Homo sapiens: one gene and its partner. The protein of the gene in region 1 purifies or fractionates together with the protein of each later gene. This does not show direct contact. Each region holds a gene or a part of one and is shown on either strand. Other genes may lie near its edges.

The links. The genes of interacting proteins can lie anywhere in the genome.
Region 2: the proteins of INSL3 (region 1) and NSUN4 purify together in Homo sapiens (affinity purification with mass spectrometry; 3 studies listed by BioGRID and IntAct, with this or other methods). This does not show direct contact.

What each region holds. Positions count from the first base shown.
Region 1 is NC_000019.10:17,817,883-17,823,251, reverse strand, and holds the start of INSL3 (insulin-like 3 isoform 2 precursor), read left to right. Parts: upstream 1-1,732; 5' UTR 1,733-1,745; coding exon 1,746-1,935; intron 1,936-2,761; coding exon of another isoform or gene 2,762-2,856; intron 2,857-5,369. UniProt on the Homo sapiens protein: Seems to play a role in testicular function. May be a trophic hormone with a role in testicular descent in fetal life. Is a ligand for LGR8 receptor.
Region 2 is NC_000001.11:46,349,926-46,354,835, reverse strand, and holds part of NSUN4 (5-cytosine rRNA methyltransferase NSUN4), read right to left. Parts: intron 1,969-4,910; coding exon 1,808-1,968; intron 1-1,807. UniProt on the Homo sapiens protein: Mitochondrial RNA cytosine C(5)-methyltransferase that methylates cytosine to 5-methylcytosine (m5C) in various RNAs, such as rRNAs, mRNAs and some long non-coding RNAs (lncRNAs).

The DNA of each region.
Region 1 (5,369 bases):
GAAACAACAAAATTCTGAACATTTCTGGTCTTGGAAGATGCCCGCTGTCTTCCCCCCTGCCCCCCAGAAAAGGCAGGATTATTACTTTTCAGTTGATCTATTTCATCTCTTTAAACTGGTTAAGACAATAGCGAAGACTTGGCCGTGTGTGGTGCCTCACACCTGTAATCCCAGCATTTTGGAAGGCCGAGTAGGGAGAACCACTTGAGTTCTAGATGAGCCTGGGCAACATAGCAAGACCCCTGCCTCTACAATTAAAAAATTAAAAATGGCCGGGCGCGTTGGTGCACGCCTGTAATCCCAGCACTTTGGGAGGCCGAGGCGGGTGGATCACTTGAGGTCAGGAGTTTGAGATCAGCCTGGCCAACATGGTGAAACCCCGTCTCTGCTAAAAAATACAAAAATTAGCCAGGCTTGGTGGTGGGCACCTGTAATCCCAGCTACTCAGGAGGCTGAGGCAGGAGAATCGCTTGAACCCAGGAAGCAAAGGTTGCAGTGAGTCGAGATCGCACCACTGTACTCCAGCCTGGGTGACAGAGTAAGACTCTGTCTAAAAAGATAAAAATAAAAATTAAAAAATTAAAAATTAGCTGGGCATTGTATTGCAGGCCTGTAGTCCCAGCTACTCAGGAGGCAGAGGCTGAAGGATCGCTTGAGCCCAGGGGAATGAGGTTACAGTGAGCTATGATCCTGCCATTACAGGCCAACCCAGAGAGATCCTATGTCAAAAATGAATAAATACCCTGGTGTGGTCGCTCTCGCCTGTGATCCCAGGACTTTGGGAGGCTGAGGCGGGAAGATGACTTGAGTCCAGGAGTTTGAGACCAGCCTGGGCAACATGGCAAAACCCCATCTCTACAAAAAAAATACAAAAAATTAGCCGGGTGTGGTGGCGTGGGCCTGTAGTCCCAGCTACTCAGGAGGCTGAGGTGGGAGAATTGCTTGAGTCAGGGATAGGGAGGTGGCAGTGAGCCCATATCGTGCCACTGCACTCCAGCCAGGGTAACAGAGCAAGAACTCATCTCAAAAATAAAAAATAAAAATAGGTGGCTGGGCGTGGTGGCTTACACCTGTAATCCCAGCTACTTGGGAGGCTGAGGTGGGAGAATCACTTGAACCCAGGAGGTGGAGGTTGCAGTGAGCCGAGATCGCATCACTGCACTCCAGCCTGGAAGACAGAGCAAGACTTTGTCTCAATAATAATAATAAAAATAATAATAGTCCAGGCACAGCTCATGCCTGTAATCCCAGCATTTTGGGAGGCCGAGGCAGATGGATCGCTTGAGGTCAGGAGTTGGAGACCAGCCTGGCCAACATGGCGAACCCCAGTCTCTACTAAAAATAAAAAATAAAAAAAAAAAAATTAGCCAGGCATAGTGGTGCGCACCTGTAATCCCAGCTACTCAGGAGGCTGAGGCAGGAGAATCGCTTGAACCCGGGTGTCAGAAGTTGCAGTGAGCCGAGATCAAGTCACTGCACTCCAACCTGGGTGACAGAGTGAGACTCCATCTCAAAAAAAAAGAAGAAAAAAATAAAAAAGAAAGACTCGTTGCCCAGTGCTCCCTCTGGGAGAAGTACATCCAAGGCCCTGGCCCTGGGAGAAAGGCTCTGGCACTAACCCCACCCTTGACCTTTTTCCTGGGCGGTCCTGAAGAATGTTCTGTCCCTTCTCCAAGGCCCCCAGCTGGGACGGCCCAGGCGCCTATAAAGGGGGTCCCCGCTTGGCCCCGGCGCCACCCACCACCATGGACCCCCGTCTGCCCGCCTGGGCGCTGGTGCTGCTGGGCCCTGCCCTGGTGTTCGCGTTGGGCCCCGCGCCCACCCCAGAGATGCGTGAGAAGTTGTGCGGCCACCACTTCGTACGCGCGCTAGTGCGCGTGTGCGGGGGCCCCCGCTGGTCCACCGAAGCCAGGAGGCCTGCGACCGGAGGCGACCGTGAGTGGGGACGGGCAGGGACAGCGCTCTGGGAAGCCGAGGTGGGGCAGGTGCACGTAGGCGCAGATGCACACGTGCAGGGAGGTGGGCAGGTTTGCATGCATGTGCCCAGGGCTCACCTGCCGGCTGCGTGCACAGATCGTGGGTCCGCACTGGAGTGTGTGTGAACGCGCGTGTGAAAGTCCCCAGAGCCGTTAGCCAGGCGTGGTGGCTCACGCCTGCAATCCCAGCACTTTGGGAGGCTGAGGCGGGTGGATCCCCAGAGGTCAGGAGTTCGAGACCAGCCTGGCCAAAATGGTGAAACCCCATCTCTACTAAAAATAATTTTTAAAAAAATTAGCCGGGGATAATGATGCACATCTGTAATCCCAGCTACTTGGGAGGCCAAGGCAGGAGAATCGCTTGAACCCGGAAGGCAGAGGTTGCAGTGGGCCGATATCATGCCATTGCACTCCAGCCTGGGCGACAGAGTGAAACTCCGTCTCAAAAAAAAAAAAAAAAGAAAGTCCTCAGAGCATGAGTCCCCCTGAGGGGCCAGAAACAGAGTGAGGCAGGAGAGGTAGGCTCTTGCAAGTACATGGTGAGATCCTGTCTTAAAATTTCAATATTTTGATCTTCATGAATTTTTGCCTTAATTTTGCTTTGTTTGTTTGTTTTTTGAGACAGGGTCTCACTCTGACGCCCAGGCTGGAGTGCAGTGGTGAGATCTCGGCTCACTGCAGGCTCAACCTCCTGGGCTCAAACCATCCTCCTGCCTCAGCCTCTGGAGTGGCTGGGATACAGGTGCTGCCACCACACCCAGCTAATTTTTTTTTCTTTTTCGTAGAGAGGGAGTCTCACTCTGTTTCCCAGGCTGGTCTCAAACTCCTGAGCTCAAGTAATCCTCCCACCTTGACCTTCCAAAGTGTTGGGATTAGCGATGTGAGTCACTGTGTCCAGCTTTAAAAGTATTTAAAAGTATTGCTTTTGAAAAGTATTGCTTTTCACAATTATGTTACTTTATTTTATTATTTTATTTTTATTTATTTATTTTGAGACATAGCCTCGCTCTGTCACCCAAACCAGAGTGCTGTGACGTGATCTCGTCTCACTGCAACCTCTGCCTCCCGGGTTCCAGCAATTTTCCTGCCTCAGCCTCCAGAGTAGCTGGGACTGCGGGCACGCACCACCACACCTGGCTAATTTTTGTATTTTGTTTGTTTGTTTGAGATGGAGTCTCGCTCTGTCACCCGGGCTGAAGTGCAGTGGCACGATCTCAGCTCACTGCAACCTCCGCCTCCTGAGTTCAAGCAATTCTCCTGCCTCAGCCTTCCAAGTAGCTGGGATTACAGGCCACTCCCCAGGTCACCCACTACCATGCACAGCTGATTTTTTTTTTTTTTTGTATTTTTAGTAGAGACAGGTGAACAGGTGAAACAACAGGTTTCACCATGTTGGCCAGTCTGGTCTTGTTTTGTTTTGTTTTGTTTTGTTTTGACATTGAGTCTCGCTCTGTCCCCCAGGCTGGAGTGCAGTGGTGTGATCTCGGCTCACTGCAAGCTCCGTCTCCCGGCTTCACGCCATTCTCCTGCCTCAGCCTCCTGAGTAGCTGGGACTGCAGGCGCCTGCCACCAAGCCCAGCTAAATTTTTTGTATTTTTAGTAGAGATGGGGTTTCACCATGTTAGCAAGGATGGTCTCAATCTCCTGATCTCGTGATCCACCTGCCTCGGCCTCCCAAAGGGCTGGGATTACAGGCATGAGCCACTGTGCCCGGGCCAGGCTGGTCTTGAACTCCTGACCTCAGGTGATCTGCCCGCCTCAGCCTCCCAAAGTGTTGGGATTACAAGCGTGAGCCGCTGTGCCTGGCCTTTTTACAAATATTTTAAATTTTATTTTAAAAGTATTGCATTAAAATACTTACCTTGCTGGATGTGGTGGCTCATGCCTGTAATCCCTGCTACTCAGGAGGCTAGGAGGGAAGATCACTTGAGGCCAGGAGTTTGAGACCAACCTGGGCAATATGAGACTCAGCCTGAGACAGAGACCCTTGTCTCAAAAAAGGGAAAAATATTAATATTATTATTATTATATATATATATTTTGAGACAGGGTCTCACTCTATCACCCAGGCTGGAGTGCAGTGGCGTGATCTCGGCTCATTGCAACCTCTGCCTCCCAGACTCAAGCAATCTGCCCACCTCAGCCTCCTGAGTAGCTGTGACTAGCTACTCTCAGGCTGGTGAGACCAGCCTGGCCAACGTGGCGAAACCTCGTCTCTACTAAAAATACAAAAATTAGCCGGGCGTTGTGGCGCACACCTGTAGTCTCAGCTACTCAGGAGGCTGAGGCAGGAGAATCACTTGAACCCGGGAGGTGGAGGTTGCAGTGAGCCAAGATCACGCCACTGCACTCCAGCTTGGCAACAGAGCGAGACTCCATCTCAAAAAAAAAAAGCTGATGCTGACATTTGGGGATGTATATGGTAGTGGGGCTGTCCTGTATATTGTAGGGTGTTAGATAACATCTCTGTCTTCTGCCCCCTAATGCCATGAATAGCCTCACACCCCATCCAAGTTGTGACATCTAAAACTGTCCCCAGACAAGTATCCCCTGGAAACAAAATCACCCTGGTTTGAGAACCACTGGTGTCAATTGTAAACTGCAGATTGGGTAGAGGGTAAACAACCCTCTAAATTTTCATAAGTCCTTTTTTTTTTCTTTTGAGACAGTCTTGCTCTGTCACTCAGGCTGGAGTGCAGTGGCACGATCTCGGGTCACTGCAGCCTTGCCTTCCCAGGCTCAAGCGATCCTCCCACCTCAGCCTCCCAAGTAGCTGGGACTACAGGCATGCAGAATTATGCCCAGCTAATTTTTGTATTTTCTGCAGAGATGAGGTTTTGCTGTATTGCCAAGGCTGGTCATGAACTCCTGGGCTCAAGCAACGCACCCACCTAGGCTTCCCAAAATGCTGGGATGACAGGTGTGAGCCACGGTGCCTGGCCTCAAAAAAATATCCTGATGGCTTCGTGCCTCCCTGTCTGTACCCTAGTCCTGGCCCTGGTGCAGGGATATACGACAAGTTTGTGCAGATGTGTTAACACGTGTCCACATGTCTCTGTGTGCCACTCCACTTGCGGTGTTAGGGATCCAGGGGAGGTGGTCTGCAAGGGTGTGTCCTCGTAGGGGTGTGTGTGTGTCTGTGGGTCCACCACACATGCGTGGGTGACCAGGAAGTGGACCCACAGACACATGTACACCCCTGCATGTCTCTGTACCACGAGGAGTCTGTGGGTGGGTCTCTGACCTGCTCTGGGTGTCTCACGGACCCTTGGACCTGTTGGGGAAACTGACACCATCTGTAGCTCCAAGACCCCCGACACTCCCTGGGCAGGGCATGGGGCACTCAGGTGGCATATGGGGACCCACGCAGCTGGGGATGTGAGTGTGGACATG
Region 2 (4,910 bases), on another chromosome or scaffold:
TAGTCAGGCGTGGTGGCACACACCTGTAATCCCAGCTGCCTGGGAGGCTGAGGCAAGAGAATCGAACTTTGAACCCAGGCTTGAACCCAGGAGGCGGAGGCTGCAGTGAGCCAAGATTGCGCCACTGCACTCCAGCCTGGGCAACAAGAGCAAAACTGTCTCAAAAAAAAAAAAGAAAAAAATGAGTAGGGGATTCCTACACAGGCAGAAAGCAAGTCTCAAGCCTATCTAAGATTCCATAAGCCTTGGTCTTTCTTTCAGTTTCTTAGAGTGGTTGAGGCAGAATGGTGAGAACTAGACAGATTAGGTAAATCAGGTGACAACACAGAGACAACAGCTATATATTTTATATATTTTTAGAAATATGTGTTCTAAACAAATATTTTTAGAGTATGCCATTTAAAATAAAATAAATAACTTAAAAACATGAAGAGACTGGCCCAGCACAGTGGCTCACACCTATAATCCCAGCACTTTGGGAGGACAAGGTGGGAGGACTGCTCAAGCCCAGGAGTTCGAGGCCAGCCTGGGCAACATAGTGAGACCCCGTCTCTACAAAAAATCATTTGCTGGGCATGGTGGCACACTCTAGTCCCAGCTACTCGGGAAACTGAGGCAGGAGGACCCCTTGAGCCCAGGAGGTTGAGGCTGCAGTGAGCCGTGTTCACACCACTGTACTCCAGCCTGGGTGACAAAGTGAAAACCTGCCACTCAAAAAAAAAAAACTTTAAAAAAATTAATATGGAGATTTTCAACATGATTAATAAGAGATTGTAAATTAGATACTATCCATTTGGCAAAAAAATTAAGTTTGATAGCACCAATATTGGCAGCATGTGGGAAATCAGTACTCATTCATTACCAGTAGGAGTGAAACTGGTTTAACCTCCACAGAGAAATTTAGCAATCGCTATCAAAATCTTAAATGGATGTAAACTGTTATTCAACAACTATACTTCCACAATGTCAACAAAATTAAAAAAGGATTTAACCCCAGGACACATTATTAAATAAAAAAATACAAAGTTCAGAATAGTGAGTATAATATAATATACTACCGGCTGGGCGCAGTGGCTCACGCCTGTAATCCTAGCACTTTGGGAGGCCGAGGCGGGTGGATCACGAGGTCAGGAGGTCAAGACCAGCCTGGCCAAGATGGTGAAGCCCCGTCTCTACTAAAAAAAATACAAAAATTAGCCGGGCGTGGTGGTGGGCGCTTGTAATCCCAGCTACTCGGGAGGCTGAGGCAGAGAATTGCTTGAACCCAGGAGGCGGAGGCTGCAGTGAGCAGAGATCGCGCCATTGCACTCCAGCCTGGGCAACAAAAGCGAAACTCCGTCTCAAAAAAAAAAAAGAAACAATCGTTATCTATAGGGTGGGGAAGTAGGGGGCTACAGGCCAGATGAGAAAAACTCACTTTTCATTGGATACTCTTTTGTGCCTTCTGAATTTTGTACCATGTGCTGTACTAACATTCAAAAATAAATAAATGAGCTTATTCTTACTTACCTTCATGAGGCTTTCTGAGCAACCAAGTGACTTGAGAAATAAAGTAAGCCTAGTAAATTTTTCCCCTACTCAAATAGTTTCAAATTCTTTTTTGCTGCCAACTATCTTTAATAGAGATAATAACCAGTCATCTAAGCTGATTTTTCTTTTGGTCAAATCACCAATGTAGAACTGGCCAGTCCAGAAACAGCTCTACATGCTCAAACATAGGGGCTGGATCCTAACCCCTCAGGCCCTAGAACCAGGATGGGGAGGCCGCATTAAGCTGGATGCATGTCCTAAATCAAGAATCACTCACCCGGTCATAGGTGTCCCCCTCCAGTTCTCCCCATTTCCTGCCATCCCATGAGGTAACTCGAACTTGATTTCCATCCCTGATCTCTTCAGGCACATAGCTGTGAAGGATCTTCTGTAGTCTGGCTATTCGGGACGGGGAGAGATCATTGGCAGCAAGATTGCCTATGGAAATAAAGATACTTCAGAGGCCATGACCCAATGAAACATTCCACCAGCAATGGCGCTGATGGAGTCAGACCAATTCTCAGGTAGTCCCAGCCAATGCAAACCCCAGCATCAGGAACATTTATTATGTGCATGGCACAGCATCAGTCATTCTGAGTGGGGGTACAATGGCAAACACCTAAATGGGCCAGAAAGTATCAAAGTTATTTAAGTCAATGAATAAAGCAGACCAAGTAAGACTCCTTTCCTTTCTCCTTTCCTGTCCTCTCTCCCCTTTCTCCCCTTTCTTTCCCCTTTCCCCTTTTCCTTTCCCCATTACTTTCGCCTTTCTTCTCTCCTTTCCCTCTCCCCTTTCCTCCCTTTCCTTTCTCTCCTTTTCTTTCTCTCCCTCTCTTTCCTTTTGTTTTTTTTTTAAGACAGAGTCTCATTCTGTCGCCCAGGCTGGAGTTCAGTGGCACACTCTCAGCTCACTGCAACCTCCACCTCCTGGGTTCAAGTGATTATCATGCCTTAGCCTCCTGAGTAGCTGGGACTATGGGTGTGCACCACTATACCCGGCTAATTTTTGCATTTTTAGTAGAGACAGCATTTCACCATGTTGGCCAGGCTGGTCTTGAACTCCTGACCTCAGGTGATCCCGCCTGCCTTGGCCTCCCAAAGTGCTAGGATTACAGGTGTGAGCCACTGCACCCAGCCACATTCTTTTTTTTTTTTTTTAAAGACAGGGTCTCTGAGTCTGGGCATAGTGGCTCACGCCTCTCATCCCAGCACTTTGGGAGGACGCCAAAGTAGGTGGATTGCTTCAGCCCAGGAGTTCAAGACCAGCCTGGGCAACATAGCGATACCTCATTTCTACAAAAATAAAAATATATTTAAATAATTTTTTAAAAAGAGACTGGAAGGCCAGGCACGGTGGCTCACACCTGTAATCCCAGCACTTTGGGAGGACAAGGCAGGCGGATCACAAGGTCAGGAGATCGAGACCATCCTGGCTAACATGGTGAAACCCCGTCTCTACTAAAAATACAAAAAATTAGCCGGGCATGGGGGTGGGTACCTGTAGTCCCAGCTACTCGGGAGGCTGAGGCAGGGGAAAGGCGTGAACCCGGGAGGCAGAGCTTGCAGTGAGCCGAGATGGCGCCACTGCATTCCAGCCTGGGCGACAGAGCAAGGCTCCATCTCAAAAAAAAAAAAAAAAAAAAAAAGAGACTGGGTCTCACTATGTTGCCCAGGTAGGTCTTGAATTCCTGGCCTCAAGCAATTCTCCCACCTCAGCCTCCCAAAGTGCTGGGATGATGGGTGTGGGCCACCATGCCCAGCCAAGAATATTTATTTCTAAAAAAATATGCTCTCCCACTATTCTGGAAACCTATGGCTCTCTTCATCTTTGGTAGATACTACAGTTTATTTAGCCAAAATCATTCTCCTCTTCCTCCTTATTAATAGAACCCCAATTTTTTGGAAGGGGAAAATTGCCCCAAAAGACTACATTTCTCAACCTTTCTTTAGTTTCGCTCTTGTTGCCCAGGCTAGAGTGCAATGGCGCGATCTCGGCTTACCATAACCTCCGCCTCCCGGGTTCAAGCGATTCTCCTGCCTCAGCCTCCCGAGTAGCTGGGATTACAGGCATGCGCCACCACGCCGGCAAATTTTGTATTTTTAGTAGAGACGGGGTTTCTCCATGTTGGTCAGGCTGGTCTTGAACTCCCGACCTCAGGTGATCTGCCTGCGTCGGCCTCCCAAAGTGCTGGGATTACAGGTGTGAGCCACCACACCCGGCTAAGCCTTTCTTTTACAACTAAGTATGACTATATGACTAACTTTTGGTCATAGTTGTAGGCATAAGTATTGGATAGGAATTCTGGGAAGATATTTTTAAAAGGCTGACATAATTGGGAGATGAAATGAGTCTCTTTTGCCCAATCCTTTCCTCTTGACTCAAATATGGATGTGATGGCTGGACTTCCAGCAGTCATTCTGGACCATGAGGCCTTGCCTTAGAGCTTTACTAGTTACATATCTTCTCCCTCTTAAAGGGAGGGAGGCTAAGGCTGACACTAGCAACAAAATACGTTGCAAAAGGAAAAAGGGAGCTTAAGTCCCTGATAATTGTGGAGCCTCCATACCTGGAGTGCCTATATCTCAGCTTCTCTTATGTAAGAGATAAATTAATGTTTCCTCTTTAAGCCAATTAGTTAGGTTTTCTATCAAATGCAACCAAACCTAATTCTGATTTACCATCTACCTTTCATTTTCTCTTTATTGGTAGACATGAGTTCAAGAAATATCTCACTTTGCTCTTAGTGCTACTATGAGAAAAATATTGCAAGCTTGATGATAAATGACACTTGATACCTGGCCTCTGAGTCAAAGAACAACAAGGTAGGGTGGGAATGGTAAAGAATGCGAGATGCAAGTGTCCACCTTATCTAATAGTGGTCACTACTATGAACCAGCTTAGTAATCCCATAAATAAATGTCTCCTTTTTTTTTATTTTAATGAAGATGAGGTCTATGTTGCCCAGGCTAGTCTCGAACTCCTGGACTCAAGTATTCCACCTGCCTCAGCCTCCTAGCTTGTGCTGGGATTACAGGCGTGAGTCACCGCCCCCCGGCCAATGTCTCCATTTTTGAGGGCACTCAAAGAAGTAAAAATTGTATTCTCTGCTCTAGAGGAATTTGCAGAAGGATATGAACTGAGAAAAAGAAAGATGGGTTCCAGTTCTGGCTCTACCTCCAATTCTTGTATTATTTATTTAATCTCCACAGAACTCAATTTCTCCCTCCATAAAATATGAGGGCTAGACTAAGTAAACACTAATTTCCCTTCTTATACAAATTCTGTGATCCCGTTTTCCTCGGATCAAGAGTTGTCGCTTGATGAGGAGCTGGGATGAAGGTGAGGTGCTGATAGTTAAGCATGCCTTAGAAGAACAACT